Linked DNA regions of Homo sapiens. The protein of the gene in region 4 purifies or fractionates together with the protein of the main gene of each other region. This does not show direct contact. Each region holds a gene or a part of one and is shown on either strand. Other genes may lie near its edges. The genes, in order: WDR6, USP12, GAK and DMWD.

Evidence for each region.
Region 1: the proteins of DMWD (region 4) and WDR6 purify together in Homo sapiens (affinity purification with mass spectrometry; 2 studies listed by BioGRID and IntAct, with this or other methods). This does not show direct contact.
Region 2: the proteins of DMWD (region 4) and USP12 purify together in Homo sapiens (affinity purification with mass spectrometry; 3 studies listed by BioGRID and IntAct, with this or other methods). This does not show direct contact.
Region 3: the proteins of DMWD (region 4) and GAK purify together in Homo sapiens (affinity purification with mass spectrometry; 3 studies listed by BioGRID and IntAct, with this or other methods). This does not show direct contact.

The regions. Positions count from the first base shown.
Region 1 is NC_000003.12:49,003,066-49,010,407, forward strand, and holds the start of WDR6 (tRNA (34-2'-O)-methyltransferase regulator WDR6), read left to right. Parts: upstream 1-4,325; 5' UTR 4,326-4,366; coding exon 4,367-4,466; intron 4,467-4,539; exon of another isoform or gene 4,540-4,594; intron 4,595-7,342. Other genes in the region: P4HTM (transmembrane prolyl 4-hydroxylase), read left to right, coding at 1,033-1,195, 1,796-2,105, 2,653-2,802, 2,999-3,122, 3,622-3,842. UniProt on the Homo sapiens protein: Together with methyltransferase FTSJ1, methylates the 2'-O-ribose of nucleotides at position 34 of the tRNA anticodon loop of substrate tRNAs. Required for the correct positioning of the substrate tRNA for methylation.
Region 2 is NC_000013.11:27,070,811-27,077,840, reverse strand, and holds part of USP12 (ubiquitin carboxyl-terminal hydrolase 12), read left to right. Parts: intron 1-2,452; coding exon 2,453-2,650; intron 2,651-6,691; coding exon 6,692-6,770; intron 6,771-7,030. UniProt on the Homo sapiens protein: Deubiquitinating enzyme that plays various roles in the regulation of the immune response and inflammation.
Region 3 is NC_000004.12:848,766-852,335, reverse strand, and holds the end of GAK (cyclin-G-associated kinase), read left to right. Parts: intron 1-361; coding exon 362-586; coding exon of another isoform or gene 587-789; exon of another isoform or gene 790-1,027; intron 1,028-1,251; coding exon 1,252-1,400; intron 1,401-2,267; coding exon 2,268-2,444; intron 2,445-2,561; coding exon 2,562-2,663; 3' UTR 2,664-3,059; downstream 3,060-3,570. UniProt on the Homo sapiens protein: Associates with cyclin G and CDK5. Seems to act as an auxilin homolog that is involved in the uncoating of clathrin-coated vesicles by Hsc70 in non-neuronal cells. Expression oscillates slightly during the cell cycle, peaking at G1.
Region 4 is NC_000019.10:45,789,816-45,797,700, reverse strand, and holds the start of DMWD (dystrophia myotonica WD repeat-containing protein), read left to right. Parts: upstream 1-4,855; 5' UTR 4,856-4,944; coding exon 4,945-5,385; intron 5,386-6,613; coding exon 6,614-6,796; intron 6,797-7,885. Other genes in the region: RSPH6A (radial spoke head protein 6 homolog A), read left to right, coding at 1,595-1,832. UniProt on the Homo sapiens protein: Regulator of the deubiquitinating USP12/DMWD/WDR48 complex. Functions as a cofactor that promotes USP12 enzymatic activity.

The DNA.
Region 1 (7,342 bases), on a different chromosome or scaffold from region 4:
CCGAAGCGCCTAAAATGGTAGTGCTGCTACCTGTGCTAACTGCTGGGGAGGGGTGGGCAGGGAAGCTGTCATGCAAGTGGTGCCCCCTCTGGTAATAACTCTCAGGAGGTTTCTGAGGTGTGGTCATCACCCTCATGCCCAAATTCTGGACCAAGAGAGGAAGATACAGCAGTTAGAAAGGACTTGGAACAGTGGCTTTGCGGCTGGTGAACCAGAGTGAAGAATCTGGCCGTGACCTGTGGCTGGATGGCTGCCACACTGCTATAGGCCCCAGAACAGAGGTGGTGACAGTCTCACAGCCCTTGAATGTCCCCCACCCTCAGAGGAATCTGGGCCAAAGAGTGGAAGGTGATGTCCTTGGGTCAGCCAGAATAACATGGAGCAAAGATACCAACTACTCTTCCAGAACCCCAAGAGGGTAGAACCCCTGCTTAATGGTTTGAGCAGGGACAGTGGAGAATGTTCTCATGAGAGGGGGTGGCCTGACTTTCGTTGCTAAGGTGGGCTGGTAACGCAGTAGGCAGGGCTGGCGAAGTAGGTTCCACCCAGGATGAAACCTGGGGTCATGAGGAACTCCCCGGGGGCTGGCCCTGCTTGCACCCTGGCGTATGTATGTAAGGCCCTGGATGAGGCCCAGCACTGCCTGCTCTCTCCTCACCCTCCACAGGCCGGAGAGTGGCCACCACTCTATATAGCCAGGCTGGAAGGCCAGGGTCCTGGCCATATGGCTCAAGCTTCCTTTGGAGAACCTTCTCTGGCCACTCTAATAGGGGGTGGGCCTCTTTCTTCTTAGGGCCAAATTAGGGCTTAAACTGAGAAAAGGAACTGCTCTGGGTCTTCCTGTAAGGCCTGATGTGACAGAAACCAGGTTCATCTGACCCAAAAGTCCAGGTGGGGGACAAGTGTACAAGGCCCCTCAGTGCCTGAGGTCAGGGGCTGCTGCTGCCTTTGGGGTAGGTAGGGAAGTGCAGCCTGCCACTGTTGCCTCCCAATATGGGCTTGGTGGGCATTGATGGTGGGTGCCCTGTGCAGGAGTGCTGAGTCTGCAGGAGTTCTCCAACATGGACCTTCGGGACTTCCACAAGTACATGAGGAGCCACAAGGCAGAGTCCAGTGAGCTGGTGCGGAACAGCCACCATACCTGGCTCTACCAGGGTGAGGGTGCCCACCACATCATGCGTGCCATCCGCCAGAGGTGAGCACCTGAAGCTGTTCTCACTGGAGCAGGGGGAGAAGACTGGGCAGGGCCTCCACAGAAGTCCTTGTCTGGGGCCAAGAGGACAGAATGGATTAACCCATTTGGGATTAAGTTCCATTTGTTAGACCAGGATTGGGACCCACTGAAAGACAGGCAATTAACAAAGGCAAATTAGCCCTCCTTGCAGGCACACAATGGGCAACTGGGGTTAGATAGAGATTGAGCACTTCTTTCTGATTAGATAAATGACCTCTTATCTTTGACCCCTTATCTGACCCCGTCACAGCAGGAAAAGGGTTTTTAAATAAACAACTTTCTTCCAGGGAGGAGGACCTCAGGACTCCCCGCCCCCTTTATTTAGTGGAAATGTCAACATTTCCACATAGCAGGTGTCTCTGTCTTTGGCATCTGAGGGAGAAGGATCATCATGAGTAACCCCCTCCTGCTCTTACAGGGCCAGTCTGAGATGGCTTAAGGGACTTCCAGGGGAGGTGGGTAGGGGCAAAGCTTGTGGCAGGCCTAGGGTCCACCTTGGCCAGCTCCTTCAGATCACCACCTTGCCTGGGGCTGCCCAGCCAAATGCCTGCTGCCCACCAGGGTGCTGCGCCTCACTCGCCTGTCGCCTGAGATCGTGGAGCTCAGCGAGCCGCTGCAGGTTGTTCGATATGGTGAGGGGGGCCACTACCATGCCCACGTGGACAGTGGGCCTGTGTACCCAGAGACCATCTGCTCCCATACCAAGCTGGTAGCCAACGAGTCTGTACCCTTCGAGACCTCCTGCCGGCAAGTATCTCCCAACTGGGGGCTGCCTTCAATCCTCAGACCAGGAACACCCATGACACAGGCACAGCCCTGCACTGTGGGCGTGCCCCTTGGCATGGGGCCAGGAGATCACTGGGTTATCCCGGTTAGTGATGCCCTCACCTCTCCCCACAAGTTGTTTACCCAATGGCTGGAAAGGGGTGGCTACTGGTCATCGTGACCACTGGAGTCAACACAGACTGATGTACCCACAGACACCAAAACTTGCCCCCTGAGTTCTGAAGCAAGGGGCAAGGCTGGGCCCCTAGCTTGTCCTGCCCATTCCTCCAGGTGTTGATCTTGATTCCACTTAGAGAAGCTGAAGCTGTGCCTCCCTCCCCTGTCAAGCCAGTTCTTTCCTCTTCAGGTGGCTGTTCTGGCCCAGCCCCTTCCCATCCCCAAGGAGCCCTTCAGCGCGCCCTGTTGCTTCTGCTAGCCTACCTTTCCCTGCCAGGCCCTTGCTCAGGGCCATGGCATTTAACTAAGTGCACCTGTGATCTTGGCCAAAAAACCATTGCAACTCACAGTAAGAGACTGGGTTTCGGGGAAGGAGGGGCTAGGGACATTTTGGCACTGGCCTGCCCTATTGTCTCCCATCCTAGTCTGTCCTGGTCCCTGGCAACAGGAACCTGGGCAGCTTATCCTGCCCACAGGTAAGCCCCTGGGAGCATCCACAACTGGGGACCTGCTCAGTGCCCCCCCTGCCTTACAGCTACATGACAGTGCTGTTTTATTTGAACAACGTCACTGGTGGGGGCGAGACTGTTTTCCCTGTAGCAGATAACAGAACCTACGATGAAATGGTAAGGGTCAACTGGGCTATTACTCTTGTGGGCTGGCAGGGGCTTAGACAAGTGAAGTACACACCTCTCCAGGTCTAAGGATGTGGGCCCAAATTATTCCTTGGGCATATCTGGTTGGTTTCCCTTTGGTCACCCTTGGCTGGCCTGGCCATAGAGTGGGGACAGGTTGAACACCCCACCACCCTGCTGCCCACAGAGTCTGATTCAGGATGACGTGGACCTCCGTGACACACGGAGGCACTGTGACAAGGGAAACCTGCGTGTCAAGCCCCAACAGGGCACAGCAGTCTTCTGGTACAACTACCTGCCTGATGGGCAAGGTGAGGGCCTATGGCCAGGCCTGGGGGGGGTGCCCTGAGTACAGCTTCCCTTTACCCAGCCCCCGTCTGCCACAATGGAGGGCTGTTTCTGGCTGCTTTCCAAATAGTTTTCTGCTCCTGGTGCCTCCCAAAGGCCATCCTTAGTGACTTTAGCAGACTGCCCCAGGACCTGTACTGCTTATTGGGTTATATCCATCCCTATCATTCCCTGATGCCCCAGCCTTCCTACTCCCTGGGGCTTGGGACACATGTCCCTTGCTAACCCAGGATGGGAAGGGATATGGACAGGCCCAACAGCAAGAAAGCTGGTTTCAGAGGGCCAGTAGTGTTGACTATACATTAGTGGGCTGAGATGAGGAGCCTCCAAGGAAGCTTTAGGTCTGGGTGTTTGCTACACAAGGAATGCATAGCTGGACCCACCTTGGTCATGCTCTTGGTGCCTATGAGGCCAAGCTCTGGCCAGCCCAGCCTAGGATCTCACGTCACCCTCCTCTTCTAGGTTGGGTGGGTGACGTAGACGACTACTCGCTGCACGGGGGCTGCCTGGTCACGCGCGGCACCAAGTGGATTGCCAACAACTGGATTAATGTGGACCCCAGCCGAGCGCGGCAAGCGCTGTTCCAACAGGAGATGGCCCGCCTTGCCCGAGAAGGGGGCACCGACTCACAGCCCGAGTGGGCTCTGGACCGGGCCTACCGCGATGCGCGCGTGGAACTCTGAGGGAAGAGTTAGCCCCGGTTCCCAGCCGCGGGTCGCCAGTTGCCCAAGATCAGGGGTCCGGCTGTCCTTCTGTCCTGCTGCAGACTAAAGGTCTGGCCAATGTCTTGCCCCACCCCGCCAGCCGCGATACGGCGCAGTTCCTATATTCATGTTATTTATTGTGTACTGACTCCATCTGCCCCGTCAAATAAAAAACCACAAGGTTCGAGCCGCCGGGCCCGACAAACTCCGGGTCGGCGAAACAGAGTCCGCGATAGGTGCAGCGGGCTGGCAGCTGGGAGCGCCCCGCAAGCGTCACGTGAGGGGGCGAGGGGCGGGATGCCCCTCCGCGGGCCCCGCCAATGATGAGCTGGATTGCGTGGGACGAAGGGTCGTCATTGGACAACCGCCGCGGGCGCCCTGGTCTCTGCTACCTGTAGCTGAGGGCGCTGTTGATGGGCAGCGCGGCGCGCTGGGAAGGCTCGTTCTCGCGAGAGTTCAGCTCCCTTCTTAGCCGTGGCTGCCTCAGCACCTCGAGGATCGACATGGACGCTCTCGAGGACTACGTTTGGCCGCGGGCAACCTCGGAGCTTATACTCCTCCCAGTGACGGGTCTGGAGTGCGTGGGGGACCGGCTGTTGGCGGGTGAGGCTTGGCTTGAGGCACGCCTGGTGGAAAGGGGGAAAGAAACAGCGCCTCCCAGGGGCGGTGCCACAGGGACAAAAGGGGTGCCCTGAGGAGAAGGACGGGCAGCAGGTTGAGGCCGATCGGAGGTGGGAAGGGAGCCCCGGAGATGGCGGGGACGAGGGCCAACCTGAAGAGGGCGGGGCCCGAGAGACAAAGCTGATGTGGCCGCCGCGGCGCTTCATAAACTTCAGCCCGCGTGGAAAGGGCGGGTGGAACCGCGGGAGGGTGCAGGGGAACGCGGCCGCGCGGAGGCGGAGGCGGAGGCCCGGGAGCTGAGGGTTGAGGGGGTGTGCTCCCTTCTAGGAGATGGGCGGGGGCTTGGCCTCTCCGAAGGAGACGGGGCCGAGCTGGGGGGGGCGGAGGGAGGAGGAGGAGGAGGAGGCGGAGGCGGCCCCGGCCCCTCAGGGGGTGTGGCCTCTTGGGGAAGGCGGGGCCGGGAGAGGGCAAGGGTGTGGCCTCTCGAGGGCGGGATGAGTCTCTTCCCCCTAAGGTGGGGGTGAAGATCCTCTGAGGAGGGTGGCGTCGCGGAAAACGGCGGATAAGACCTTTCCGAGTAGGGGGCGGTGCCCGGGGAAGCAGGGGCTGAGACCCCCTCCTGAGATGGTTGAGGTCCAGGAAATCAGGTGTGGAGGTCCCTCCAAGGAGAACCGGGTCGCAAAGGACAGGCGAGGCCTGGGACCTGAGGTGTCAGAGTCCAGGCTGGTCTCGAACAGTCATTACATGAAGCCACTAATGACCCATGTTGGTGCTGCTGAGTTGTATAAGGGTCCTGAGGCAGGGCCTTGGCGGTCAGGCCTTGAGTGAGTTGCCACCAGTCCTAAGAGGGTGTGTGTATGGGGTGGGGATGATCCAGTTTTGATCTGGTGTGGGGGTTCTTGGAGCGCGGAGTTCCTACCGCGAGCTAAACTCCTAAGGCTCCTTGAGGGGGAACAACGAAGCAGAAACTCAAAGAACCACAAGAGTGAACTAGGAAAAGGGGTGAGTTCCTGGCAAGAGGGTAAGCATGCCAAAGGCCTTGAGGCTGGAAGAATCTGTCATTTTGGGGGAAGGAGGGAATTCTTGTGAAGTTAGAGCAGGAATGGAGTCTGGGAGGAAAGGAAGCTGGACAAGCGAGCAGAGGCCACATTGTTTCAGGCCTTGATCTGACTTTATCCCTAAGGGCAGTGGGGAGAACCTATTGAAGGGTTTTAAGGTGGGGAATAACTTGGGAAATGCAGTTTAAGAAGCTCTGCAAGTGAATTCACCTACTTCTGTGGCTTCCAAAGTGACTTTTATATAGCTACAATTCTGTGTGTGTGTGTTTTTTGTTTGTTTGTTTGTTTGTTTTTGAGACAGTCTTCCTCTGTCACCCAGGCTGGAGTGCAGTGGCACGGTCTCGGCTCCCTGCAACCTCCGCCTCCCAGGTTCAAGTGATTCTCCTGCCTCAGCCTCCGGAGTAGCTGGGATTACAGGTGCCCACCACCATGCCCAGCTAATTGTTGTATTTTTAGTAGAGATGGGGCCTCACCATGTTGGCCAGGCTGGTCTCAAACTCCTGACCTCAAGTGATTCGCCTGCCTCAGCCCCCCAAATTGCTGGAATTATAGGCATGAGCCACCATACCCGGCCTCTCTAGCCTCTTCCTGAGCTCTTCATTTCCTGTTCCATCCACCATACTCAATGCTCTTGCCCATCTCAGGGCAATCATACATGCTGTTTTCTCCACCAAGAAAGCTGCAAACCCTCCCATTGCTCCCCACCCCCCCCCCCCCGCCCCAACATTTCCCAGTCCCCCTCTTCCGCCTCCTTTCCTCTGGCTAACTGCTGCTTATCCTTGAATCCTAACTCTAAATATTGTGTCCTCAAGTTGGCCTCCCCTTACACTCACCCAGTCTTGTTAGATTAGACCAGGGTTTTCTCAATCTTGCCTCGATTGACCTTTTAGACCAGATAATTCTTTGTTGGAATGCTGTTTGTGCATTGTAGGATGTTTAGCATCATCCCTGGCCTTACTTGCCAGTAGCACAACCCCTGGAGACAGCCGTACGTGTCTCCAGCTATTGCTAGATGTCTCCTGTGGGGAAAGTTGCCCCCTGTGGAGAACCACTGGATTAGACTTTCTCATTTTACATCTTTTATTTTCTTTTTGCATTGTCAAAATCCTTCTCATTTTATTTTACTTTTTTTTTTTTTGAGACAGAGTCTTGCTCTATTGCTCAGGGTGGAGTGCAGTGGTGCAATCTCAGGTCACTGCAACTTCCACCTCTTGGGCTCAAGAGATCCTCTCACCTCAGCCTCCCAAGTAGCTGGGACTACAGGCATGCGCCATTATGCCCAGCTCATTTGTATAATTTTTTTAGAGGTGGAGTTTTGCCCTGTTGCCCAGGCTGGTCTCAAACTCCTGGGCTTAAGCGAGCCTCCTGCCTTCCAAAGTGCTGGGATTATCGGTGTGAGCCACTGTGCCAGGCCCCATCTCTATTTTTTTTTTAATTAAAAAAAAAAAGTGAGGTGAGGAGGAGGCTCTGAGTTTGAGAAATTTGTGGTTGAAGTGAACATCAAGCGTGACTGATGAGGCTGGGCGCGGTGGCTCACGCCTGTATTCCCAGCACTTTGGGAGGCCGAGGTGGGCGGATCATGAGGTCAGGAGATCGAGACCATCCTGGCTAACACAGTGAAACCCCGTCTCTACTAAAAATACAAAAAATTAGCCGGGCATGGTGGCGGATGCCTGTAGTCCCAGCTACTTGGGAGGCTGAGGCAGGAGGATGGCGTAAACCTGGGAGGCAGAGCTTGTAGTGAGCCAAGATCGCGCCACAGCACTCCAGCTTGGGCGGCAGAGTGAGACTTTGTCTCAA
Region 2 (7,030 bases), on a different chromosome or scaffold from region 4:
AGCCAGAATCCTATAAATTCTTTGGTGTTTTGGTGACCTTAGTGTTTTGAGCAGGAAATCAACTTCTTTTTTCTTCCTTCTGCTGCAAAATCTACATAATGAGTTTCAGACTCCTTACACGTATGTTCAAGCAGTTTTCTGCTTTTTTTTGGAGCCATTTCAATATGAGGGAAATTTTGTAAGCTAGTCTCTCATCATCTTTAAAATATGGCTCCACACATATTTTTGCTTGACAATTCCATGGGTAGTTGGTTTCTTTGTGGTAGCCAGCACTTCTCCTCTGGGAGGATCTTTGGCAAATAGGATTCATATTCTTCATGTGTTATCTTATTAAACATATTGTATCTGCTATTATTGAGATATTTTCTCTTTTCTGCATTTGGACTCCTCCCCTTGTGTAATTTCTAAAAGCACATTTTCCCTAACCATCGGGCCATGTTCATTCTCTTTCCTCCTCCTAATCTTACCTGACTGCCATTTATTAATAGTGCACTGACACTCATTTTATGCTCAGAAAATTCTTCTTTTGCATCTACCATCCATTGGAAATTCTCAAAGGATACCTTGTTGTTTTGTAAAGATTTCTTTTCAGTAACTCTATGTGGGTTTAATAAAAGGTCTGATGTTTCATAGTTGAATTATATTTTATGTATAATTTTATATCCTGACTTCTTAAGTATTTTCTTATGTCACCTAGAAACTTTCATCAGCATTGTTTTATTTAAGTTGTACAACACTCGGTTATGTTTGAATTCTAATTTATTTCCACATTTCCTGTTGCTGAATAGTTGGGATTTTTTACAATGTAAAAGAACTCTAATAGGAGATTATTCTCATAAGGGATGTTTTTGAGATTATACATTTAATTGTATTTCCAGAAATAGGATTACTGAGACAAAGGCCATAAAGGCTCCTAATTTATATTGGTGGATTGCTTTCTAGGAGTGACTAGGTGTTTACCTTTACTTTGGCTAATGTTTCCAAAAGGCCAAGTTCATTCACTAGTAAGTAATTTAGGAATAATAAGCTATCCACCATATTTAAGAAGTGTAGAATGCAGATTTAGTATAATGTTATAAAATGATTTTTTTTTTCACTTATTAGAGGCAGTGGCTTACCATATATCACTTCTTTAAATTGTGAGGAGTATTTTGCTTCACCAGACCCATTTAAAATTCAGTTCTGCAGCATTTGGCATCTATCATATGTCAGGCATGTTGCTAGATAGTGGGGAAATAAAAATGAAGGGAATGCTTTCTAGCTGCCAAGAGTTCAGGGCCTAGAAGAAAAGAACCATAATCACCTAAAATTGTTACCATGTAATAAGCTTGACATATATAAAGTGAACCTGTAAGGTGCTGATGGAGGATTGAAGAGAGCAGGTGTATTTGTGCCAGAGGGTGTGACATTTGAGCTGAGCCATTAAAAGAAGAATAGATTTTTAGGTGAAGTAGGAGTACAAAGGCACTCTCAGGGAGAAATGGCATTTAAAGGCATAATAAAGATTGTTTAGAACATGAAGAACAGCCTGTGTTTCACAGTTAAAAACTTAACTCCTAAGTTTCCAGGTTATTTTACTCCCTTTCTAGGATATACATTGTCATTTTTCTTAATATGGAGTTATTTCTTGTCTCTGACAAGCACCTTGATTGGTCTTTAGTGCTTTTATTGTTTTAGTCTCCTATTGTCAGTCTGTACCTGCATCATATAGATTGATAGAAAAAATAGATTTCAGTCTACCCAAGTCCAAAGGAATTGTCAGTTTCAAGAAACTTGTTTTCCCTCTACCACTCTTTTTTTTTTTTTTTTTTGAGACGGAGCCTTGCTCTGTCACCCAGGCTGGAGTGCAGTGGCGTGATCTCAGCTCACTGCAACCTCCGCCTCCTGGGTTCAAGCGATTCTCCTGCCCCAGCTTCCCGAGTAGCTGGGACTATGGGCGCCTGCCACTATGCCCGGCTATTTTTTGTATTTTTAGTAGAGACAGGGTTTCACCATGTTAGCCAGGCTGGTCTTGAACTCATGACCTCAGGTGATCCACCTGCCTCGGCCTCCCAAAGTGTTGGGATTACAGGCGTGAGCCACCGCGCCTGGCCTTCCCTCTACCACTCTTGAGCACCCCGTGCATTTAGCCTTATTATAAGAGACGTGTGTTTGAAAAATACAGATTCCTTAACCAAGGACTAACGCCATTCCATCTGTTTTGGAGCCATATTGAGTGCTGTGTCAAATTATGTGGTGTGACAATGATGGGTAGGGTGGGGTCATATTAAGATGTTCAGAATGTTGTTTTGTCAGTATAAAAATAATTGATAGAAATGTGCAAAACTGGGCATTGCTGGGCTATTAAAACTGACCATTGTCTATCTGTTCATTGGATATCGTAAAGTTTGATAATTCAAGGACATGGTGGATATCTTTTATGAAATTTTGTTTTCATTTTTATTTTTAATAGGATGAAAGTTAAAAAACTGCCCATGATTCTAGCTCTACACCTGAAGAGATTTAAATATATGGATCAACTTCATCGATATACAAAACTCTCTTACCGGGTAGTTTTTCCTTTAGAACTTCGTCTGTTTAACACTTCAGGTGATGCCACCAATCCAGACAGAATGTACGACCTTGTTGCTGTTGTGGTTCACTGTGGAAGGTAATTGCAACTCCGGGGACATAGTAGTGGAATTCCTAGGTTAGAAGAGCAGGGTACATTCAAGATGTTCATGAATTATTCATATATAGAACTTTTAGAAATTCTGTATTCTCTCAAGATAATTTTATTTCAAAATGGAGTTTTAGCTTTATGTTTTATCATTTCTTAAAAATTTTATATGTTAAAATATATTGTTTTTATTTTTATTATTTATTACTCTACAAGTACTATATCTGATTTCCTAGAACTTTGAGATCTGTTAGTTTTTCTTTTCCTTTTTTGGGGTGTGTGTATAGAGGGTTGTTGGTTAAAATAAATCACTTCTGAGTTTAATTGCGTATGTTCAGCATATCAATGGTTGTAAAAAGCATTTTAAAATGGCATTGGAAATAATCTTCAAAGATTCATTTTTTGATTTTACCTGTGTGTGTATTTATCATTTCTTATTAGCCAATTTTGCTTTCTGTCTTCTTCTCATCTTCTTTTCCAACATGGTATACACATCTTCTCTGTATGAACGTACATACCTATAATTGGCCTTATTAAATACCTCAGAAAATTCTCAAACTGCAAGAGCATCACATAATCAAAACTTGTATTTGGAACATAACTGTCTTCATTGACTGCTTAGAATTTCCTTTAATAATTTTAAAGCAGGCACTCATCATTTTCCCCTTGGTTTTGGGAAACTTGTACTAACAGCATGTTTTATCCAAATAAAAAAAGTTACAGCTTTCTCATCTTCAGCCCTCCTCCCAGCTCTCTGATTAGAATTTTTTTTTTTTCTTTTTGAGATGGAGTCTTGCTCTGTGGCCCAGGCTGGAGTGCAGTGGCGCCATCTCGGCTCAGTGCAAGCTCCGCCTCCCGGGTTCACGCCATTCTCCTGCCTCTGCCTCCCGAGTAGCTGAGACTACAGGCACCCACCACCACGCCCGGCTAATTTTTTGTATTTTTAGTAGAGACGGGGTTTCACCATGTTAGCCAGGATGGTCTTAATCTCCTGACCTCGTGATCTGCCCGCCTCGGCCTCCCAAAGTGCTGGGATTACACGCGTGAGCCACCGCGCCCGGCCTCTGATGAGAATTTTTAAGGACAATCTGGAGGGAGCAAATGCTCTTTAATAATCGTCTTCTTCCTCCATTGCCTGGGTCAGCCTTGGGTCCCGTCTTTTATCCTCAGCAAGAATCTTTCTTCTACTTCTAAATTAAGAGTGATCACATCTTAAAGGAGTGAAGCAGTGTCAAGATTACTTAAAGAACCTTGGTGTAGTGATTCAGACCGGGTTTTCAGAGTGAGAGAAACTTGGATCTCAGTACCATTTCTGCCAATTGTGGGCAGTGTAACGTTATGCATAGCTTCCTGAAAAGCCTTCAGTTTTCTCTTCTAGAAAATGTAAATAATACTAATTACCACATTGCTTTGTTAGGATTCAAAGGGAGATGTAAATCGCTTAGCTACTGCTACTGTTCTATTAACAAAAATGTAATATTACCTTCTCACATCTTAGCTTTATAATATTTACTTTCTCACACCGATTAGCCTCTTCAAATTTAGTGACAGTCCTACTCTACTTAAATCATGCTAGATTTTTAGAATTGCTCTACTCACAATATACTGAGCTGAGATGCCTGACTCATTGGGGAGGGGTCCCCTCCCCACTCTCCCCTTTTAAAATTAACCCAACTCTTTCCCCAGCCTTAAATCCTTAAGTCTCTTGACCCTTTCCCTTTTTAACCTTTTCTTTGGCCTCACTTGCTTCTCCCAACTTGAACTCCACAGTCAGTTATTTAAAGCATGTTCTCACAAGCACTGTAAAATCCTCTTGCCAGCTGTCTGAATCCCTACTGTCAGAATTGTTGCAGAAAATTGCAGAGAGATGTTTATTGACTTTCCTCACAGCCCTGGTGGTCTGCCTTCACTGGGAACTCTCTCCTGATGGAGTTCTGCACAGCAGGTCTTTGGTATCCCGCCCCCACCCCAGGGTCTTACTCTTTCTCCTGTCTCACTCTCATTGCCTCATGCCTTCCTGCCCCTCCGCTCTGGAAGTCTTCCTTGACGCTCTTCTGCCCAGCCTCAGTCTCCATGTGGTGCTGCTCCATTGTCTTCACATAAATACTAGACGTGCATTGCTAGCCCTGTCTTAGTGCTTTATGTACTCTCTTAGGATGTATGTCTACTTCCCTTATGAGAACAGGTGCTTTTTAAAACAGAAAATAATTTGCTCACTAATAAAAGACTAATCATATTTTAGAATCTTTTTCCATTGTGTATTTTATTTATCAGACTTATTTGTAGATTTGCTTCATATGAAAGTGTGGAGGGTGTGCGCAGCCTCATTATCAGCATGTCAGTTCCAGTTCAGCTTGCTCCTTCTCTGTCCCCGGTGCCCAGCCTAGAAGAGACTTCTAGCAAATGTTTGTTGACTTAAGTATTACCCTTCAAGCCCATGTCAAAACTGGGCACCATTTCGTGATTTCCCATCCCTCTCTCCCTTCTACCTCCTGTCTTGCTGGATGAGGTCTCTCCTGTGGCTCTACTTTTATATCATATTCTTCCTTGGATTATGTTTTTGGAGTAGTTATCTATTGTACTGAAGGGGTATTTGGGCAAGCAGTTGTTGGTATCTCTTTAATCTCCACAGCAATCAATAGTTATTTGCATACCTTACGCATTTGTATCTACTCAACTGAGTGTGTTTAATGTCCAGAAATCAGATGCCTAAGAAACAACTTCCTTAGGTGGAAGTTCAGCCCTTCATCTCTCATTTCATTTTTAGTTTATGAAATTAACTTTTGTCTACTGTTCCTCAAACTAGTTCTTTGCCAAAGGAAAAAGCCGCCTAACTTTTTTCAATTTACCAGTCCTTACCCCACCCACCTCCTTTCCTTCCACCCTGTGTTCTGCAACCTTTCTTTGATTTTTCTTTATTTCACCTTTTATAATTTTGTTTTCATTTCTGACCCTCTCCCCATAACACACAAGACCCTTTAGATGAGCCTAAATAAATACAGAAATAGACTTAAAGCATTAAATGCTTTTTTAAGAAAAAGTTTTGATGTGTCATCCTCCATAGTTAAAAAAAAAAAAGTATTTTTGTTGGTGTCATTCTGTCAAAGATATTTATCTCACCTACAGGATCAAATGATCTGAGAAACATAAGATATTATAGTAGGTGGCTTATTCTAATATCTGGTCACTACTTTTAAAATAGTGTTCACCATAAAGAATAATTTGTGTTGAAAAGGATTTTAACTTCTGTATTAATTATAGAATTACAATTTAATAAATATAATTATATGAGCCTTTATAATGAACCATACTTAAACTGGAAGAGGTTAAAACCTTTGTCATATCCTTTTATAAAGAAAAGGAATTATGCTTCTTTTATTTTTATGTATATCTACATTTATATATTCCAGATTTGTTTGAAATGAGATGCAGGGGCAATCATAGTCATAGTTATAATGGTATTAAGAATTAGGTACTTAATAATGACTTACCATTGAGCAAAGGTCATTTGCTTTTAAAGACATTTTATGAAGTTCAGGCTTGATTTTGGAACCAAGGATTTGATATCCTTGCCTGTTTCAAGCATCATATTGGATCTTTCCTCAAGAAAAAAACCATTACCAAGGGAGTGAGACTTAGAAATAATTCTATATGCATTGTTTTATAGTCCAACTCAGCATGTTCTGCTGTGATCCCCTCCCTTATAAAATGATAGAAAAATATGTCTTTTATTATAGAAGCAAAATTGAAAATTATTACAAAGACAGTAAAAAATTTCAGTAATATAGCTGTATGTGAAAAGAATACTGATATATCTCTTAGAGTACTAATTATTTGATTTTAAAATTGATGACCAGTTCAACTCAGTGTAGCTTTATCTCTTTTGGCAAGAATAGGTAAGGGGTATAAAAAAGAAGCAGTTCTTTTTTACTGCTATTTATCTGTTTCTGTTTCTTTATAAAACAAAATTTAGAGCATGAAAGAGTAATATTAATAAATATATTGAATTAACTTCTTCTTCGTTTGTTTTAGTGGTCCCAATCGAGGCCATTATATTGCAATAGTTAAGAGTCATGATTTTTGGTTGTTGTTTGATGACGACATTGTAGAAGTAAGTAGTTTCTTAATTTCTTATTTTTGAAAGTTGTATGCATATGTTGCTTTTCACTTTTTTCTCATAGTTTTTCATTTATATATGACTGGTGATGATATGAGACAAATGTCTGGGTCTATAGATTGTAGTCTAATTCCTACTTCTTACTCTGCAACGTCCAAGCCCAGCAGTTGAGTGGTCACCTAACCTTTACACACCTAGAATAAAACAAGGGAGGCCAGGTGCGGTGGCTCACGCCTGTAATCCCAGCACTTGGG
Region 3 (3,570 bases), on a different chromosome or scaffold from region 4:
GACAAGCCCCGGGTCTGCCTTGGCTCCTGGGGGTGACGTGGGGACACTGCCCCAACCCCCGTGGACAAGCCCTGGGTCTGCCTTGGCTCCTGGGGGTGGGGTGCTGCCTCCACAGCTGCCCTGTCCTGGTGTCTGCCCTCCATCCAGAGTGTTCCCGTCGCCCCAGCACCTGGCCTGTGCTCCAGCCCCTGGAGACCTTCACACGTGTGGGTGGAGCCGGCACCTCTGGACGGCCTCGAGTGATCGGTGTTCTATTTTGCAAGCGCATGTTTTCCAATATACGTGGTGCTCTGCGTTATAGAAACAGTAGTTGCCCCTCATGGACAACCAGATGCCGAGTTTCCGATCTCCATCTCCACAGGCTCACCAGCTGGATTCCCTCCTGGGGGCTTCATTCCCAAAACGGCCACCACGCCCAAAGGCAGCAGCTCCTGGCAGACAAGTCGGCCGCCAGCCCAGGGCGCCTCATGGCCCCCTCAGGCCAAGCCGCCCCCCAAAGCCTGCACACAGCCAAGGCCTAACTATGCCTCGAACTTCAGTGTGATCGGGGCGCGGGAGGAGCGGGGGGTCCGCGCACCCAGCTTTGGTGAGTCCCCCACTCTCTGTTGCTGTGGAGTTTGCAGAGACCTCCCTGAATTGGCTAAAGGTAGAACCTATGTTGTTTTCTTCATCTCAGAGCCCAGTCCTGGGACAGGCACGGCCAAGCCACTCAGAGAACGACGCGGTTTCCGATGTGTGTTCACTGGTCTCTCTCTGGGTCAGGCCTCTGGGTCCCTCTTGTTCCAGTGACACCTTCTTGACCTGTTTTTAACAAATGGCCTTTGCAACCCTGTCTTGTCTTCCCTCTTCTTTACTCTGGAGGCATCAGGATGGTAGCCCTGTTCCCGGGGGCAGCAGGTGGAATTGGGCCTGTGTGTCTCTGCAGAAAGTTTCTGTTCTTAACTGGGCTTTGTGGCTCACGCCTATAATCCCAGCACTTTGGGAGGCTGAGGCGGACAGATCGCTGGAGCCCAGGAGTTCAAGACCAGCTTGGGCAACAGTGATACCTCCTCTCTACAAAAAATGTAAAAATTAGCCAGGCATGGTGGCGCATGCCTGTGGTCCCAGCTACTTGGGAGGCTGAGGCAAGAGGATCGCTTGAGGCCGGGAGGCAAAGGCTGCAGAGAGCTGAGATCACGCCATTGCACTCTGGCCTGGGTGACAGAGTGGAGACCCTGTCTCAAACAAAAAAAAGTTTCTGTTCTTTTCTAGCTCAAAAGCCAAAAGTCTCTGAGAACGACTTTGAAGATCTGTTGTCCAATCAAGGCTTCTCCTCCAGGTCTGACAAGAAAGGGCCAAAGACCATTGCAGAGATGAGGAAGCAGGACCTGGCTAAAGACACGGACCCACTCAAGCTGAAGGTGGGTGGGTGGGCAGCTCTTCCTGGGAGCCCAGAGGCCTCAACCCATGGCCCCTGGAGCATCTGCTGTGCCTTATGGAGCCGGCGTCTCCAGACAGCAACCTTTCACCCCTGGAGCATCTGCTGTACCACATGGAGCCGGCGTCTCCAGACAGGGACCTGTCACTGCCGATGGGCCTGGCAGCCCTCAAGGACAGGGTGGCCTGAGGCCAGGGGGGCAGGGCAGAGTCAGGCCCCAGGCTGTGCTGCTCCCCACGTGCCCAGATGGCTCAGCGCTGGTGGGGGTGGGGTGGGCGGGCGTTACAGGAGTGAGTGCCCCGGGGTGTTTGCAGAGACTGTTGAGGGCAGGCGTCTCTTGGGGGCTGCTCTGGGTACTGAGCCTCCCAACCCAGGACGCTCACTGGGGGGTGAGGATGCAGCGGTCAGGCTGTCACTGTGCCGGCCCTGAGACACGCCCTGCTCTGTGGCTTGGCCGATGCCCAGCTCTGCAGGCCACATGCGCCTGTGACCTTGGGGTCCTTTCACAGGCACCAGGGACCATCCCCTTCTCCCTCGGAGTCTGGGGCCTGGGATGGGCCAAGGGGTTGCACCACCAGAACCAGGGTTTGTGTCCTCGGTGAACATCTGGCTGAGACGAGGGTCCCTCTGGCCCCAGGCCCTGAAACATGAAGACCACCTGGCCCTGTGTCGTCCGGAGTGGGCTCTATATAGTTGAGGGCAGGGCGTGCAGTGGGACAGTGTCTGTGAGCCGGGCTGAGCCCACCCCACGTGACCAGGCACTTCCTCAGCGTCGTGCCTCAGTTTCCGCGGTGCAGAGGAGGAGGGCAGGCAGGTGCCCAGGGCTCGGCAAGCTCCGTGTCTCCCGCAGCTCCTGGACTGGATTGAGGGCAAGGAGCGGAACATCCGGGCCCTGCTGTCCACGCTGCACACAGTGCTGTGGGACGGGGAGAGCCGCTGGACGCCCGTGGGCATGGCCGACCTGGTGGCTCCGGAGCAAGTGAAGAAGCACTATCGCCGCGCGGTGCTGGCTGTGCACCCCGACAAGGTGAGCAGAGCTGCCAGGCGGCCGCTTGAGGCCTTCAGGGGCGGGGCGGGGGGGGGGTCCTGCCCCGCCCGCCCCCGCATGCTTATAAGAGGCGCTTACACCGCCTGTCACCCATAGGCTGCGGGGCAGCCGTACGAGCAGCACGCCAAGATGATCTTCATGGAGCTGAATGACGCCTGGTCGGAGTTTGAGAACCAGGGCTCCCGGCCCCTCTTCTGAGGCCGCAGTGGTGGTGGCTGCGCACACAGCTCCACAGGTTGGGAGCCGTCGTGGGACCTGGGTCCCCACCGTGAGGACCCCGTGGGCGACAGCAGGTGTGGCCAGGGTGGGGCTCCGAGCCCCGGGTCACCGCCCGCCCAGCGTTCCAGGCACATGAAGAGAAAGCATTCCAAAGCCTCTGATTGTTGTTTCCTTTTTCTCCTCCCGAAGGAACAGCTGATTCATGCTCCTCCCGCAATTGTCACGTCTGTGATTTATTTGGTGTTTCGGGCGTGGCCTCTGGAGCCCCGGCACGTGGTGGGCCACGCTGCTGGCGCTCATGGGCCCTGGTGTTTGCACCGCACTTTGTAATCAGTCCCGTGGTTGTCTGTACAGAATTAAACTATTTTCCGATGACTGCTGTGTCTCCAGTGTGGATCCACTCGCCCAGGTGCCGTTCACCAGCTGGGGCACAAGGCTGTGCTTCCTCAGCAACCTTGCCGTGGTTGGATTGTTGCAGGGGCCGAGTGGAGAGGAGAAGCGGGTCCCGGGGCTGCAGCGGCTCTGGGCAGCTCTTCAGGGGGCCATAGAGCCCAGCCAGGGCAAGGCCAAGGGCGGGGGCCCCTGCAGTCCCCAGACCCCCTTCCTCCCCTCGGCCCCGGGACTCCTCTCTCCTCTCCACTTGGCCCCTGCCCCTGGGCCCTGGACCTAGGAGCAAGGGTGGGCTCCACACTGCCCCTGTGCCATCCCCGCAGGGCCAAGGTGGCCTCCGGGCTGTCGGGCTGGTGGAGGACCAGGGGCCCCTGGAAGGAGAAGGTGACCATGGTGAGCCCCCACCCCACAGCAGACTCGAGGAGGCCCTGAATCATAGCCCTGAACTCACCGCCAGGCTCTTCCTGTTTTCAGAGAATAATGACTGCACGTTTGC
Region 4 (7,885 bases):
AGATGTGGTTTCACCAGGGTGGTCTCGAGCCCCTGACCTCAGTTGATCCTCCTACCTCGGCCTCCTAAAGTGCTGGGATTACAGGCCTGAACCACCGCACCTGGCAGGGAGTTTTGTCTAGTTTGTTTACTGCTGTGTCCCCAGCACCTAGACAATTTTATTTATGTCCCACATGATATGTTGGACATAAATAAAGTGTCACAATATAAATAAATTGATATCCAACATAAAATTATGTCTCACATAAATAAAATATGAGCCACATATATAATTTAATTTTTTTTGTTATTTTTAGTTACTTATTTCTTTTTTTTTTTTTTGAGACAGAGTCTCACTCTGTCACCCAGGCTGGAGTGCAGTGGCGCGATCTTGGCTCACTGCAAGCTCCGCCTCCCAGGGTTCACGCCATTCTCCTGCCTCAGCCTCCCCAGCAGCTGGGACTACAGGCGCCTGCCACCACGCCCCACTGATTTTGTTTTTGTATTTTTAGTAGAGACGGGGTTTCACCGTGTTAGCTAGGCTGGTCTCGATCTCCTGACCTTGTGATCCGCCCGCCTCGGCCTCCCAAAGTGCTGGGATTGCAGGCGTGAGCCACTGCGTCCAGCCTAGTTACTTATTTCTTGATTTATTTTGAGATACGTTCTCACTCTGTCACTCAGGCTGGAGTGCAGTGGCATGATCACAACTTACTGCAGCCTCAAACTCCTGGGCTCCGGCAATCCTCCCCCCTCAGCCTCCCCAGTAGCTGGAACCACAGGTACGTGCTACTGCAACTGGCTAATTTTTAAACTTTGGGAGGTGGAGGCGGCAGATCACTTGATGTCAGGAGTTCAAGACCAGCCTGGCCAACATGATGAAACCCCCTCTCTACTAAAAATACAAAAATTAGGCCAGGCATGGTGGCTCATGCCTGTGATCCCAGCACTTTGGGAGGCTGAGGCAGGCAGATCACTTGAGGTCAGGAGTTTGAGACCAGCCTGGCTAACATGGTGAAACCCCGTCTCTACTAAAAATATAAAAATTAGCTGGGCGAGGTGGTGTGTGCCTGTAGTCCCAGCTACTTGGGAAGCTGAGGTGGGAGAATCACTTGAACCCAGGAGGCAGATTTTGCAGTGAACCCAGGAGGTGGAGTTTGCATCCAGCCTGGGTAATACAGAGGAACCCAGTGAGCACATTTCACCCTGCCATCCACAACTTTGCAGTCATGCTATGCACATGCTGGGTCCTACCCTTAAAGAAAGTCAAGGCTGGCCAGGTGCGGTGGCTCACGTCTGTAATCCCAGCACTTTGGGAGGCCGAGGCGGGCAGATCATGAGGTCAGGAGTTCCAGACCACACTGGCCAACATGGTGAAACCCCATCTCTACCAAAAATACAAAAATTAGCTGGGCGTAGTGACGCGTGCCTGTAGTCCCAGCTACATGGGAGGCTGAGGCAGGAGAATCGCTTGAACCTGGGAGGCAGAGGTTGCAGTAAGTCGAGATCACACCACTGCACTAGGCAACAGAGTAAGACTCCATCTCAAAAAAAAAAAAAAAAAAGTCAAGTCTGGGGCCTTTGAGGGAGAATTTCACAGTGTCTCACTGCTTCTCCAGAAAGTTTGAGAACATCTACATCGGCTGGGGTCACAAGTACAGCCCCGAGAGCTTCAACCCGGCCCTGCCAGCCCCCATTCAACAAGAGTACCCCAGTGGCCCAGAGATCATGGAGATGAGTGACCCCACAGTGGAAGAGGAGCAGGCTCTGAAAGCAGCCCAGGAACAAGCCCTGGGAGCCACAGAGGAGGAGGAGGAGGGCGAGGAGGAGGAGGAGGGCGAGGAGACAGATGACTGAGGCCCACCCTCTAGCCACTTTCCCCAAGCAGGTAGATAGCAAATTTCCCCTTAGAGGTAGTTAGCATGGATTATATTTTCACTATGTGCTTCCTGTCCCCAGAGGGCAGGGATAGAAAAGGAAGGCAACTGCTTCAAATAAAATTCCTCCACGGCATTATGGATGAGCCATTCATTCATTTGTTCACCACCTCTGTTGACATGGACTCCAAGCCAGGGCTGTTGGGCCCTGCAGAGAGCACAGACATTGCCTGGCAGAGTCTCTCCCACCTGTTTGGTTTTTGTTGTTGTTGTTTGAGACAGGGTCTCATTCTGTCACCCAGGTTAGAGTACAGTGGCACAATCTCAGCTCCCTGCAGCCTTGACCTCCTGGGCTCAAGCAGTCCTCCCATCTCAGCCTCCGGAGTAGCTGAGACCGCAGGTGCACATCACCACATACACTAATTTTTGTATTTTTTGTAGAGACAGGGTCCTGAGTAACTAGGACTGCAGGCACAGCCCACCATGCCCAGCTAAATTTTTTCAATTTTTCAGAGTCTCACTATGAGATGGGGTTTATGTTGCCCAAGCTGGTCTTGAACTCCTGGCATCAAGCGATCTGCCTGTCTTGGCCTCCCAAAGTGTTAGGATACAGCTGTGAGCCACCGCGACCAGCCCCACCTGTTTTATTTATTCATTTACCTAGCCATCAAACCATTATTGAAATACCTCCTGTCAGCCCACCCCTGTGCTGGGGACACAGACAGCTGCAGTCCTGCCTTCCTGGACCTCACAACACTATAGGGAGAGAGACTCATTTCCAGACAGTGACAGCCCAAATGGGGAAGCCCAGAGGACTGACAGAGCTCCCGAGCCAACTCTTAAAGGGTCAAGAAAAGAATGGGGAAAGGCATTCCAAGAATAGGGAACAGAATGTGCAAAGACCCAAGGACAAGAGAGAGTGTGATATGTTGGGGTAGTTTTTCAAGCCTCATTTTAGGTGGTGGATAGTGTGAGGAGTTAGTGGTGAGATATGAGATTGAAAAGAGGTTGGCAGGGGCCAGATCACTTGGGGCTTAACTTTCCCCTGAGAGCACTAGGGAGCTACAGATGGGTTTTGAGCAGGGGAGGGCCCTGATCATATTCATGCTTTAGAAAGACCTCTCTAGGCCTAGTGCAGTGGGTCACACATGTAATCCCAGCACTTAGGGAGGCCAAGGTTGGCGGATCACCTGAGGTCAGGAGTTTGAGACCAGCATGCCCAACATGGTGAAACCCCGTCTCTACTAAAACTACAAAAAAGTAGCTGGGTGTGGTGGCAGGTGCCTGTAATCCCAGCCACTCAGGAGGCTAAGGCAGGAGAATCACTTGAACCCAGGAGGCAGAGGTTGCAGTGAGCCAAAATCGTCCCATTGCACTCCAGCCCACGTGACAAGAGCGAGACTCTGTCTCAAAAAAAAAAAAAAAAAAAAAAAAAGCCGGGTGCAGTGGCTCATGCCTGTACTCCCAGCACTTTGGGAGGCCGAGGTGGGTGGATCACCTGAGGTCAGGAGTTCGAGACCAGACTGGCCAACATGGTGAAACCCCGTCTCTGAGCCGAGATGGAGCCATTGCACTCCAGCCTGGGTGACAGGGTGAGACTGTCTCAAAAAAAACAAAAACAAAAACAAAATAAAACCTCTCTACATGCCAAGTGAAAGGTGGAAGTGGGGGTGAGACAGAAATCTGGGAGACCAAGAGACACGGTTGATGTGGGGGTGGGGGAAGGGCTTGGGTAGAGGAGAAGCTTGGATCAGGGAGAACAAGGAACTGAGAAAGAGGAATTCCACGTGGTCGAATGCAAAAGACTTGGAGGCTGTAAGCGGGGGCAGAGTGAAGATAAATGGTACACATCTAGGAAGACACCCAGGTCTGTGGCCTGGTTGACTGAGTGGACGGCAGAGCTAGCCCTAAGGTGGGGATGCAAGAGAGGTGGAGGATTTGGTGTAAGACGTCAATTTCATTGTAGGATTCTTTTTTCTTTCTTTTTTTTTTTTTTTTAGAGAGACTGAGTCTGACTCTGTCCCCCAGGCTTTAGTGCAGTGATGTGAATTCATAGCAGTCTTGATCTCCTGGGCTCAAACGATCCTCCCACCTCAGCCTCCCAAAGTGCTGGGATTCTCGGATTCCAGGCATGAGCCACCATGCCCGAACCATTGTAGGATTTTTTTTTTTAAGTGTGAGATGCCCTTGGGACACTCTAGGGAGAAATCGTAGAGGCCATTGACTACATGAGACTAGAAAGATCTATGATGGGGCTGGGTGGCTTCAGCAGACATGGGGAGCACTGGCTATGAGTAGGAGCTGTTGGGATCAGGGGGAGACTTTGGGTTACGAGTGGATCACTGGGACACTGGGGCACCGTGGGGATCAATACAATTTGGGAATCAGAGGTAGGTTTTGGAGGACAAGTGAGGTTGTTGAAAATAAGAAAATCATGGAAATATACATTGGAGGTTGGTGGAAAATATGAAGGATGTTTGGAGTTAGCATTAATCAATAGTGGGTCAGAGGAAGTCCTCTGAGTTGTGTGGGGACACAGGGATTTGGTGGGTCACCAAGGGTGGGGAAGAATGGTAGCAGATGCTGTGGTCATTCAGGGATTTGAATATGTCAGTGGGAAACACTGGAGGTCAGGGGAGTGTATATTGGGCGTCTAAGGAGAGACCAGGGTCACTTGGGGTTGGCTGTGACTTCATGGGAAGGCTGGACTATGGATGAGGGCTTCTTTGTCGTGGGGGAAAAAAAAAAAAAAATCCCTCCGTTGCTAGGCAAACGTTCCCAGGGCGCGGTTGCTAAGGACTTGAGCTTTCTAACTGGCCACGCCTCTTTCCATTGCGGGCTCCGCCCCCGCAGCCAACCACAAGTCGGTCACAGGCTCAAAGGCCGCGCCCACCTTCTCGCCCCGCCCACAGTCCCAGCACCGTTACCCGAGCGACCGCGGGGATTCGTCCCGCCTCCGGATCTGGGTGCCAATCGAAGAGGCGTTGCCCGGGCGACGACCCCACCTTTTCCGGCGCGGGCCAGCGGCTTCCGGGAGGGGGCCCGGCTGCGGGCGGCAGTCCGGCAGTGGCGGGGCCCGGGGGGCGCCCAAGATGGCGGCGGGCGGCGCGGAGGGCGGCTCGGGCCCCGGCGCCGCCATGGGGGACTGCGCGGAGATTAAGTCGCAATTCCGCACGCGCGAGGGTTTCTACAAGCTACTCCCGGGCGACGGCGCCGCTCGCAGGTCGGGTCCGGCTTCCGCCCAGACTCCGGTGCCGCCTCAGCCACCGCAGCCCCCGCCCGGCCCTGCCTCCGCCTCCGGTCCCGGCGCTGCAGGCCCCGCGTCGTCCCCGCCGCCCGCAGGCCCCGGACCCGGGCCCGCCCTGCCCGCCGTGCGCCTCAGCCTCGTGCGCCTCGGGGAGCCGGACAGCGCCGGGGCCGGGGAGCCGCCCGCCACGCCCGCGGGGCTGGGCTCGGGGGGAGACCGCGTCTGCTTCAACTTGGGCCGTGAGCTCTATTTCTACCCAGGCTGCTGTCGTCGTGGGAGCCAACGGGTGAGCGGCCTGCATCGTGGGGCCCTGGGTGCTGAAAGGATGGAGGTTCCAGAGAACTGATAGGAGGGTCCCCGAATTGATATGGGGCCCTGAGATAGGCATTCTAAATGTGATGGACGTTGTAGGGCGACAGCATTGGAGGGAGTACAGGATTCTGAAATGTGATGAGAGGCCCGCGGGGTGCTGGGCAGGCATCTTGGAGGTGATGGGGGAAATCCCCTTTACCCCCGTTATGCGTAGGAGTTCTGGGATGGTGACTATTGGACATGATGGGGTATCTGAGATGAGGTGGGATCCCCCGGGTTCTGGGGTGGCAGGCATTCTGCAGGTAATGGGGAATCATGAGGTGATGCAAGCCCAGAGGTGATGGAGAACCCAGTATTGCAGCCTGGAGGTGTGGGAGAGGGGTCTTGAGATTGAGCCCAGGAATGAGGAGAAGTCTAGAAGTGATGGGGGCCTTGAAGGTGATAGGGGATCCAGAAGCTGAATGGGATTCTAGAGAAAATTGGGGTCTGGAAGTCATGAGGGTCCTGGAGGAGATGAGCGTCCGGAAGCTGATGGGAGCTCTCAAGGGAATGAGAGGCCCTGGCAGGGGAATCTGCAGGTGTGATTCAGGACATCTCTAAAGCGATGTGGTGAGAACCCTGGCCGTTTATGGTGATCCCAGAAATGATGGGGATCCTTCGGAGCCCCTAGGTAATAAATGGGCCTAAAATGTGGGAGACCGTGAGGTTTGACGGGTCCCAGAACTGTGGCGGTTTAGGGACTACAAAGTGAAGAGAATGCTAGGATGTTAGGCTTTAGAGTCCTGGAAATTTGGGTGACCTCAAGGTTTGGGGGTCTTGGAATAGTGTGGTACTAGGTCCCAAGGGAGTTGCTGAGGTTATAGGATGGAGTGGTGAGGCTAAAAGGAATCGGAGCTTAGGAACTGTGTGGACCCAGAACCCTGATTATGTGGACAAGGGTGTCTCTGAATTAGAGGTGACCCAACTTTGGGGAGGCACTGTGGTCAAGGGGGATCCTTACCATCTTTTTTGCTACTCTTGTCTGTGATTTGGGTCCCCTTCCCGTCTGTGGTTGCCCCGTCCTTCGCAATCCACCTACTCACCTCCCCACTTCCCTCTGGGTTCTAACCCTGCTTCCTCTTAGTGGTTTCCCCCAACCTCAACATCCTCTTCCTTCTCCTCAGTGGCATACACCATTAACTCCTTTTCTCCCACCCCTCAAGTCCATTGACCTCAACAAGCCAATTGACAAGCGGATCTACAAGGGCACCCAGCCCACCTGCCACGATTTCAACCAGTTCACTGCTGCCACCGAGACCATCTCGCTGCTGGTGGGCTTCTCAGCGGGTCAAGTGCAGTACCTGGATCTCATCAAAAAGGACACCAGCAAGCTGTTCAATGAGGAGGTGATTGCAGCCCCCAGAGCCCCCAACTTCTCTGCCTTCTCACCTACCCACTATATGCCATTAGGATGCAGCTGCCTGCGGAACAGTGTAGGCCTGAGAGGGGCAGGACCAGGGAGAGATGGAGAATGGGGTGACAGCAGCTAATGACAGCTGCCTTTACTGTACCCAGGCCCTGTGCTGTGTTACCCTTGTGCTGAATACTTTACTCCTTGGGTTTTCTTTCTTTCTTTCTTTCTTTTATTTATTTATTTTGAGATGGAGTCTCACCCTGTCACCCAGGCTGGAGTGCAGTGGCGCGATCTCTGCTCACTGCAAGATCCACCTCCCGGGTTCATGCCATTCTCCTGCCTCAGCCTCCTGAGTAGCTGGGACTTCAGGCACCTGCTGCCACGCCCGCCTAATTTATTGTAGTTTTAGTGGAGATGGGGTTTCACCGTGTTAGTCAGGATGGTCTCGATCTCCTGACCTCGTGATCTGCCCACCTCGGCCTCCCAAAGTGGTGGGATTACAGGTGTGAGCCACCATGCCCGGTTCTTTTTTTTTTTTTTAATTGTAATTGTAATTTTTATTGTTTTTAATTTTTTTTTTCTTTTTAAGGCGGAGTCTCACTCTGTCGCCCAGGCTGGAGTGCAGTGGTACAATCTCGGGTCACTGCAACCTCCGCCTCCCAGGTTCAAGCAATTCTCCTGCCTCAGCCTCCTGAGTAGCTGGGACTACAGGTGCGCACTATCATACCTGGCTAATTTTTTTTTTTGAGATGGAGTCTCGCTCTGTCGCCCAGGCTGGAGTGCAGTGGCGCGATCTCGGCTCACTGCAACCTCTGCCTCCCGGGTTCACGCCATTCTTCTGTCTCAGCCTCCCCAGCAGCTGGGACTACAGGCGCCCAGCACCACGCCCAGCTAATTTTTTTGTATTTTTAGTAGAGACGGGATTTCACCGTGTTAGTCAGGATAGTCTCGATCTCCTGACCTCGTGATCTGCCCGCCTCGGCCTCCCAAAGTGCTGGAATTAAAGGCGTGAGCCACCACACCCGGCCAATTTTTGTATTTTTGGTAGAGATGGGGTTTCACCATGTTGGCCAGGCTGGTC